Regions from separate parts of the Homo sapiens genome. Here regions 2 and 3 are each reported to be linked to region 1. The links are microRNA targets in miRTarBase. Many come from high-throughput screens and were not tested one by one. Region 1 holds a microRNA gene; each other region holds the end of a gene's coding sequence.
The links. Region 1 holds the annotated microRNA hsa-miR-4271 (GGGGGAAGAAAAGGUGGGG, at 1,768-1,786, shown strand). A microRNA usually pairs through its seed, bases 2 to 8, with sites in the 3' UTR of a target mRNA and lowers its output. Matches are read on the target gene's strand: a 7mer-m8 pairs with bases 2 to 8, a 7mer-A1 pairs with bases 2 to 7 and ends in A, and an 8mer does both.

Region 2: the mRNA of SUSD6 is a reported target of hsa-miR-4271. Seed matches in the 3' UTR shown: 7mer-m8 at 754-760.
Region 3: the mRNA of WDTC1 is a reported target of hsa-miR-4271. Seed matches in the 3' UTR shown: 8mer at 2,878-2,885, 7mer-m8 at 1,844-1,850 and 7mer-m8 at 1,822-1,828.

Annotation. Positions count from the first base shown.
Region 1 is chr3:49,272,391-49,275,732 of GRCh38, forward strand. MIR4271 (microRNA 4271) reads left to right here and starts at 1,730; the gene lies at 1,730-1,796. It overlaps C3orf62 (chromosome 3 open reading frame 62), which reads right to left. Exons shown (of 3, transcript NM_198562.3): 2 at 1,659-1,750.
Region 2 is chr14:69,710,572-69,713,571 of GRCh38, reverse strand. It overlaps SUSD6 (sushi domain containing 6), which reads right to left. Exons shown (of 6, transcript NM_014734.4): 6 at 1-2,618. The coding sequence ends at 2,593. Among named protein-coding and RNA genes, the nearest start is that of SRSF5, 55 kb to the left of the region's middle. RefSeq lists an enhancer at 86-380.
Region 3 is chr1:27,306,012-27,309,353 of GRCh38, reverse strand. WDTC1 (WD and tetratricopeptide repeats 1) reads right to left here. Exons shown (of 16, transcript NM_001276252.2): 16 at 718-3,168. The coding sequence ends at 2,971. Among named protein-coding and RNA genes, the nearest start is that of TMEM222, 14 kb to the left of the region's middle. RefSeq lists enhancers at 522-1,046, 1,047-1,572, 1,573-2,098.

The DNA of each region.
Region 1 (3,342 bases):
GTAGTTCACATACAGGACATTCAGATTTGTATGTAGAAAAAAAGTCTGACAGGATGTATGCTATACTATATCTATATTAACAGTGGTTATCTCTGGGTGGTAGAATTATAGGAAAGCTTTTGACTTCTAATTTTTCTCCTAATCTTTTTTTTTTTTTTTTTTTTTTTTTTTTGAGACAGAGTCTCATTCTGTCACCCAGGCTGGAGGGCAGTGGTGCGATCTCGGCTCACTGCAACCTCTGCCCTCTGCCTCCTGGGTTGAAACAATTCTCATGCCTCAGCCATCCAAGTGGCTGGGATTACAGGTGTGCACCACCACGCCTGGCTAATTTTTTGTGTTTTTAGTAGAGAAGGGGTTTTGCCATGTTGCCCAGGCTGATCTCGAACTCCTGACCTCAAGTGATCTGCCCGCCTCAGCCTCCCAAAGTGCTAGGACTAAAGGTGTGAGCCACTGTGCCCAGCCCTTTTCTCCTAATCTTTAATTACTGACCCCAGCTAAATTACTCTCTCCTTTTTGCCTATGTCCTGTTTCCTAAAAATTTAAGCTCAATCACCATGTCCTAGTGGCCACCATCCCTTGCCTTCAGGGACTCAGTGCATCTAAACATTGATGACATGACCTGATTGATGTATCTATCACCTCACAAGATAATCAGTTGTATGAGGGAAGGGACAGGTTTTGTTAACATTCAGTTCCCTAATCAATGCAGAGTCTGAGCAAAACATCTACCAAATAAAAAGATAAGAGTGTTTTGGCCGGGAGTGGTGGCTCTTGCCTGATCCCAGCACTGGGAGGCCACAGTAAGTGGATTACTTGAGACTAGGAGTTCGAGACCAGCCTGGACAACACAGCAAAACCCTAATACAAATATTAGCCAATCATGGTGGCGTGCACCTGTAGTACTAGTGTAGTACTATGGCTACTTGGGAGGCTGAGCTGGGAGGATCACCTGAGCCCAGGGAGGTTGAGGCTGCAGTGAACTGTGATCGTGCCACTGCACTCCAGCCTGGGTAATATGATGAGACTCTGTCTCTCCCCCCAAAAAGTGGTGGTGGTGTTTTTTCTTTTGAGATGAGGTCTCGCACAGTTGCCCAGGCTGCAGTACAGTGGTATGATCATAGCTTGAACTCCTGGGCTCAAGTGATCCTTCCACCTCAGCCTCCCTAGTAGCTGGGATTATGGGCACACACCACTGTGCCCAGCTAATTAAAAAAAATTTTAAGAGACAGATCTCGCTATGTATGGTACCCAAGCTAGAAGAGAGTGTTTTTTGTTTTTTTTTGAGATGGGAGTCTCACTCTGTCCCCCAGGCTGGAGTGCAGTGGCAAGATCTCAGCTCACTGCAACCTCTGCCTCCCGGGTTCAAGCAATTCTCCTGCCTCGGCCTCCCGAGTAGCTGGGATTACCGGCGTGCACCACCACGCCTGGCTAATTTTTGTATTTTTAGTAGAGACGGGGTTTCACCATATTGGTTAGACTGGTCTTGAACTCCTGACCTCATGATTCGATCTCCTCGGCCTTCCAAAGTGCTGGGATTACAGGCATGAACCACCGTGCCTGGCCGAGAGCATTTCTTATATCTGAGATATTTGCTGACTCAGACCCATGTGAAGGACCTATCTTCCCAAGGACAGGATGGACTTGCCCACTGTACTCACCAATCATATCAAGCAGATCCTTTGTGACCTCTTGGCTAGAATTGTTGAGTGGCATGTTTGAGTCAGCCTTCAAATCTCTCTCCATATCTTTCCTGCAGCCCCCAGGTGGGGGGGAAGAAAAGGTGGGGAATTAGATTCTCTTTCAAGAAAATATTGAAGGGAAACTCAGTTTTAGATAATCTCAAAGACAAAAACTTACTGGTGACCTTGTCATTTATGCTTTGATTAAAGGACAATTGGAAACTGCTACATCAGTGGAGAAATTGACTAACAGCTTTACCATAATGACTCACGAGCATCGCAGACTGTATTAAATTTTTTTCTTTTTTAGAGACAGGGTTTAGCCATGTTGCCCAGGCTGGTCTCGAACTCCTGGGCTCAGGCGATCCACTCGCCTCAGCCTCCCAAAGTGCTGGGAATACGGGCATGAGCCACCTCACCCAGCCTGCATTTGTTTACTTATTTATTTATTTTTATTTTTTATTTATTTTTTTGAGATGAAGTCTCGCTTTGTCCCCCAGGCTGGAGTGCAATGGCGCAATCACGGCTCACTGCAACCTCTGCCTCCCAGGTTCAAGTGATTCTCCTGCCTCAGCCTCCTGAGTAGCTGGGATTACAGGCGCCTGCCACCACGCCCAGCTAATTTTTGTATTTTTAGTAGAGATGGGGGTTTCACCATGTTGGCCAGGCTGGTCTCGAACTCCTGACCTCAGGTGATCTGCCCGCCTCAGTCTTCCAAAGTGCTGGGATTACAGGAGTGAACCACCGCGCCTGGCCTGTTTGTTTTAAAGACAGAGTCTTGCTCTTGTCGCCCAGGCTGGTGTGCAAGGGCGCAATTTCGGCTCATCGCAACCTCCTTCTCCTGGGTTCAAGCGATTCTCCTGTCTCAGCCTCTGGAGCAGCTGGGATTACAGGCGGCCGCAACGGCACCCAGCTAATTTTTCTATTTTTAGTAGAGACGGGGTTTCACCATGTTGGCCAGGCTGGTCTCAAACTCCTGACCTCAGGTGATTCATCCGCCTCAGCCTCTCAAAGTGCTGGGATTCAGGCGTGAGCCACTGTGCCCAGCATTTTTTTTTTTTTAAGATGGAGTCTTGCTCTGTTGCCCAGGCTGGAGTGCCATGGCAAGATCTCAGCTCACTGCAACCTCTGCCTCCAGGATTCAAGCAATTCTCCTGCCTCGGCCTCCCAAGTAGCTGGGATCATAGGCGCGCGCCACCACGCTCGGCTTATGTTTGTATTTTTAGTGGAGACGGGGTTTCACCAGACCTCAAGCGATCCACCCACCTCAGCCTCCCAAAGTGCTGAGATTACAGGCGTGCCACCACACCCGGCAAGGCCTGCACTGCTTATGAGTACCAATATAAATATTTGTGGAGTTGAAAGGAAAAAAATTCTTGTGGAGTTGAACCAATTAAATGGCCTCTTTATCCCCTTCCTATGAAGCAGCCAAGATGGCAGAACTTTGAAGTTTTTTTTTTTTTTTTTTTTTTTTTTTTTGATACGGAGTCTCGCTCTGTCGCCCAGGCTGGAGTGCAGTGGCGTGATCTCGGCTCACTGCAAGCTCCGCCTCCCGGGTTCATGCCATTCTCCTGCCTCAGCCTCCCGAGTAGCTGGGACTACAGGCGCCCGCCACCACGCCCGGCTAATTTTTTGTATTTTTAGTAGAGACAGAGTTTCACCG
Region 2 (3,000 bases), not on the chromosome of region 1:
TAAGGGACAAAGCCCAGAAGCCCTAGAAATAGCAGCACATGGCTGATGGTTAAGAAATTGCTTTGGAAGAAAGACATAACTGGAGGAAGAAGCTGTCACAGACTTCAGCAGTGAGGGGAGAATGAGCTCCTGCACTCACAGGCCCAGGAGCCTCTGGGAAGTGGGCCTCATCAAAGCCAGTGACAAGAAGGAGGGGAGGAGACGAGAGGGGAGCCAAGGCTCCCATTGTTCTAATTTCTTCCTTTCCTACCAGGTGGGCAAGCCTGGGCTTGTGCTCCTCAGTGTTGTTAGTGGAGGGCAGGGCGGAAAGAGGCTTCAGGAGAAGGAAGGCTTTTCATTTCACCAGGGATCAAGCTGGTCATCTATGCAGCTGAATAAACCCCAAACAAAAAGTGCAATCTCTTAGGGGGACAAAACCCCAGAGTAACAAGATAGAAAAAGGTAAGATCTTCCATTTTAAAAACCATTCTAGAATAGAATGCGGGTTTTGAAACAGTGAAAAATAAAAGCTGAAGGCTCAGCAGTGAGACTTCAGATTACCACCCCTCCCCCTTTTGTCACTGCTTTCTGTTTTGGAGGAAGACAAGGGCACTGCTGTGGGTGAGGTAAGGCGACTGGGGCCATTAGGGACAGCCCTCCAGGTGGGCCCATGCTAGTCTCATCTGCCTTCTAGTTCTAGCACCTTCTCCAACCAGCTCCCTACCTAACTATGCTTTCCTGGACTCAGCACAGCAGATGAGGGCTCCTGGGGGAGGGGAAGTGTGGGAGTGGCCAACAGGCACAGCAGGCACTGCCCTTACCCTGAGAGGAAGGAAGGAAGACTACAAGTGGCAGCAAGAGGCCAGGGAATGACCGGGTGGTAAAGTGCGTGTGTAAGCGCGGAGGCAGGAGGCAAGAGGGTAAAAGGCTGGGAGAAGACCACTCCCCTCATCTTCTAGGCCACCCACGCCTGGAGCCAACCCTGTTAGGTAAGGTACTGAAAATAAACTGGGATTTTTATTTTTACCACCCCCAAGCAGACAGGCTCAGGGGAGGAGCAGACATGCAGCACAGGGTCCGCTTCGAAGTTTCCCAGCCACAGTGCTTCAGAAAATTTCAGAAAAAAGCAAAACAAACATTCCTTACTGCTGCATCTATCTTCTAAGATGACAGCAGTTGGCAGAGTTCGTCCACCCCAGCCTAGTTAGCATTCAACACATGGCTATGGGAGAGCGCCCCTCATCAGTGGGCTCCTCCCCCAGGGCCCTGTACTCCAGGCTGCTCCACACCCCTCTGCCCACCTCAGGCCATTAAGGTTGGGGTGCACACGGACTGTTTCTCAGCCCTTCCCCCAGGGGGCCAGGGAAGACAAGGAATTGCTTGTCAGCTGTGACATGCGAGGGGTGGCAGGGAAGGGCAGAAGTAGGAAAAGCAGCAGCACAGCAAGCAGCAGGCCACTTCCTGGGCACAGTTACTAAGGCACGTGACCATGGTGAGGAGGATCCTCAGGACCGGGCTGGAGCTGCCTGCAGCCACCCGGGGACTTGGTCTGTGCCTCTCGGCCTCCCCTCCGTCACCACAAACCCAGAAAGGGGCAACCTGCCCAGACTGCCAGTGACCAGATGGGCACTCCATGGCATCTCAGCAAGTCTCCTTCCTGCCCCAGGCCCCTGTGGGCAGCAAGAAAGCCAGAGCTATCTGGGATAAAACCCAGGAGGCAGCATGCAACTTCCCATTATACTCCAGGGAAACAAAAAAAAGACAAGGCCAGGAAGGCCGATGCTGGAAGTAGGAAGTGAGAACTTGCATATTAGGAAGACAATCATTATCAGCCATTTTCCTTCTCTCCCTTGGGATCTTCTGGATGCTTCTTGGAAACTCTCAACTCAACAGGGCCAGGAGCTTGTGCCTTTGGGCCAGATGGCTGGGTCCTGGGCCAGCATGGACATGATTCTCCAAATCTTCCATCCTCAGCCAAGGAAATATGCCACCAGGGTCAACCCAGGGCAAGCCCAGGGACTACACTCTCACCCCAATTAGAGCCACTTCTGCCACTCTTGACTCAAGAGCTCTCACACCTGGATCTGTTCCTGCAAAGGGCAGTAGGGGCAACCCTCAAAGGAAACAGGACAGACCCAGGCCCGGCCCCCTGTGTGGCAGGGGGCAGCAGTGCAGCCACTAAGGCTTGTGGACAGCAACAAGTCTGCATGACAGGGAAACTGGACAGGGTGGGGGAAAGGCACAAGTAAACACAGCAGCACTCAGGCCCACAGGAGCTGGTGGGGGCTGCCGCCAAAGAGCTGGCTGGAGGGGACCCAGAGGCTTAGGAAAAGGGAGGGTTTGATCCAGCACATTCAAATATGTCTCTGACAGATGGGAAGGCGGGGCCAGGCAAAGAGCCAGCTCCTCCAGCTGTCCAACAGGCAGATGGCGAGAATCTTCCTTGAGTTTCCAGCAAGGTGGGCCTATAGGGCCCTCAGAGATACACAGATACACAGGTGGCAGCTCAGGTATCCAGGTAAGGTGGCTGGAGAGTACAGGGTGCTCAATCCCACAGGGAGAGGGAGGAAGGGCTGAGAGAACCTCGCAGAGAGGAAAGGCTGGCCGCTGCCCTCATGCTTCTTTCAACAGTGGAATATCTGCAGGAAGACCAGAAGAAAAGCACAGTGGTTACCTTGTGTGGAACTCTAGAGCACTCTCGACCCCACTGCAACTTAGGGGCTATCCTACATAGCCCCTAATTTAAAGAAAGTAAATGTCCCACTCATACACTTCTAGGTAGGCAAAAACTCCCTACCTCCTTTTTTATGACTTTCTAGCTTATCTTTCCCAGTGCCTATGTGAAAAAAACTCAATGTTCAGCCTGGTATTCAAACCATCCTCCTCTCTGCCTTAGCTCTGCTGGTCTAGTCACTTCCCTTTCTCTCCTAATTCCACCCTATGAGGCTACAAAGCCCTGTGAAGTCCCACTGCCTCCTAAAGCCATCTGCCAGTCGTGTGACTTTGGATAAATCACTTCCC
Region 3 (3,342 bases), not on the chromosome of region 1:
CCCCATCTCTGCTAAAAATACAAAAAATTAGCTGGGTGTGGTGGCGGGCACCTGTAATCCCAGCTACTTGGGAGGCTGAGGCAGGAGAATCGCTTGAACCCAGGAGGCGGAGGTTGCAGTGAGCCGCAATTGCACAATTGCACTCCAGCCTGGGCGACAAAAACGAAACTGTCTCAAAAAAAAAATAAAAAATAAAAAATAAATAAAAATGCAAAAAAAAAAAAATAGCTGGGCATGGTGGCACATGCCTGTAATCCCAGCTACTTGGGAGGCTGAGGTAGGAGAATCACTTGAACCCGGGAGGCGGTGGTTGCAGTGAGCTGAGATCATGCCACTGCACTCCAGCCTGGGCAACAGAGCAAGACTCCGTCTCAAAAAAAAAAAAAAAAAAAAAGAATGAAATAAATATTGTTTCTTCCAATTCAGGTGTATTATTTTTTAAATGGCAACTAACTTGTTAGGACATAAATACTTTTTAAGTGATTTGGACTTAACTACTTAATAAATTGAACTGTTATTTCTTTTGGCTTAGAGGCTCCATGAAAAAATTACTGAGATGGTAATGGTGCTGTGAGCTAAGAAAGTTCAGGAACCTATAGTCTAAGAGATTATCTAATCCAGGGCACTTCAAAAACTTGCATATGTGAAATCAATTTAGTGGGTTATAGCCATATTTTTTTCCCTAATAAAACAGAAGGGTAAGCAGAGTACACTGCATGTAGCAAGGGTAAATATTATTGTGTAAAACTTTTGTTCATTTTTTTTATATATATATACACACACACATATCTACAAGTAATCATGTGTATATTGGGTCACAATGTAAAATGGTTTGAAAAACCACTAAGATTCCAAGTCCCTTATTTTACTGATGAGAAAACAGCCAGAGAGTGAAAGCTGATGATTACAAATCACAGCCATGAGAGCTGGGCTCTGCACTCAGCCCTGCTGGGCTGGGTGGCCGCTGCTCACGGTGACCCTTCAAGGCAGGCCTCATTCTGTCCAGTAGAGGTGTGGTTACTAAGTCATAGAGCTACAGAGGTGAGGGACCAGGTGCCCTCACTTTGGTTCCAAGACCCATCTGCACCCCACAAATGCCACCAGCCACACCTAGAACAAAATGGTTTTAATCAATTGCGTCACCCTCACTCTCCTGGGAGCGGAGCAACAAAAAGGCTCGGCTCCTGCCCCCAGAGGACAGTAAGGCTTATGTGTCTCTCCACACTGCAGGGCCCAGGCTGGGCAGGCAGGGGGTGGGAAGCAGGACAGGGGGCAGGGAGGGAGGGTGGGAGGCAGGGAGGAAATGGCAGGTGGCTGGAACACAAGAAAGCAAAGGGGACCCAGCTGGTCCTTGGGCCCCAGGGCCCAGCCCCAATACTCCTGCTCTCCCTTCTCCCTGGCTAGAGAAAGGTCACGGAGAAGAGACAGGGGAGCAGGTCCCAGCAGCAGGAGAAGCAGCAGCAGCTGTTTCCTTCACCAATAAATATACTTCATTACCAAGCTAGAAGAGAGGGGTGGGAAGAGGGACTGGGGTGGGAAGGAAGGGGGAGAAGCTGCCACCTGTGTTGCTGGGATTAAAGCAATGAGATGGTGCCAGACCCCCCACCACTATCCTCACCCTCCACTTGTCTTCTTAAAACTGTGAAAAAGCTTTTAACATGGCCCTCCTGTCTCCAGGGCTGCTCTGAAGCCTGACTGAGAGGAGGCACCTGGCAGAGACAGGGGCTGAGGGAGGGAGCGAGGGAGTGGAGGGAGAGGAGAAGGGAGGCTGCTTTTCCCCAGGGGCTGCAGCTGGAGGGCTGGAGCCAAGTAAGCACTGAAGGGGAAGCAGGGAGGGAGAGAGGGGGAAGGATGAACCAACTACCTGGAGCAGCTGGAGCTAAGAGCCGGGGGCAGAGGGGAGGAGAGGCCTGGTGAGTGGTGGGTTGATCGCTGCATCCAGTGTAAAGCTTGGGGCTGCTGGGGAGGGAGGGGCCGAGTAAGGGACTTTCCCATCTGAGTGGCTCAGGAGACCCACCCCTCTCCCCTCAGAGCAGCAGGGGACAGAGAAAAGCCATCACTTCTTTGGTCTTTGTGGCGGCTCAGCATGTGGGATGGGAAGGAGGGCAGAAAGGGCAGAGAAGGGCCCTTAGCAGGAAGCGCCACCTCAGCAGAGTAGGCCTGGCTGGGAGCTCTGGCAGAAAGGTCACAGTGAGGCTGAGGAGCGCCCAAGAGGAGAATGGCCGTAGTGCAGAAGTGCTGGCATGGATGGGTGGGGTAAGGTGCAGTGCCCCACCCTCTGCCAGGGCCCTTGGGAAAGGCAGAGCCTCCAGAGGTGGCCAGTGAGAGTAGGTGCAGGGCCAGAGCTAGTAGCCAGGAGAGGAGCGAGGGTGCTCCACAGCGACCTCAGCAGGTGGCCTGGTCTTGCCCACTCCAGGGCTCCCATCCTTCCTTTGGGCTCCGCTCTAACACTGGTGGCTCTGGAGGGAGGGTGGGACCCATCCTTTTTCAAAACCTTTCCTGAAGACCACAGGGGAGCTAGCCTTGCAGGCTAGGGAGCAAGAGTGGCAACAGGCCAAGGCGAGCCCTTACCAATTGGGAATCCCACTCCTCCTGCTGCTGCCAGCTAAAGGGCAGGACAGTCCCTGAAGACAGTTCAGCTTGTTCCTCCCCACCTGAGGCAGAAGGGGTTTTGAGGCAGGCCAGAGCCCTCCAGGGACATGAAAGCAGGAGATGGGGGGGGGCATATGGAGGGGTGTCCCCTCCTGCTCTTTTTTTCAGGGCTGGGGATAGTCAGGGGACAATCAGCCCAGAGTCCGAAAGCCAGCAAGTTGTAGCAACCTCCACCCCTAACGCCAAACTAACAAACAAAACAGGGGAAATGAAAAAAAAGGGTGGTGGGGAAGACAAACCAAAACAGAATCCCCTGACCTCCTGCCCAGGGCAGAGGGTCCAGCCAGTAGCAGGGGCTGGGGACCAGGGCTGGAGGGTCTAGCTGGGCCGGCACTGCACCTGGCCCTCAGAGCTGTCCTCATCATCAGAGGCCCCGGCACCCCCACTGCTCAGGCCCGTGATCCGGTAGCCCATGTTGAGCAGCATCACCTCCAACGGGTCTGCATTCATGCGCCGCTGGTTGGCCTGTGAAGCACCCTCCATATCTTCCACGACTCGGCCTGTGAGGTCTTCACTCTGTGGTGGAGAAAGGGGTGACACACGTGGGGCTCAGGGAGGGAGAGGCACCAGGGTACACGTATAGGGGAGGGGGAGGGAAATACACAGACTAAACTATCTATAGGGGGAGGTACACATACATGCCAGGAGGTGTATATGGTGGAGGGGAACACACAACCTTGGCTACATATT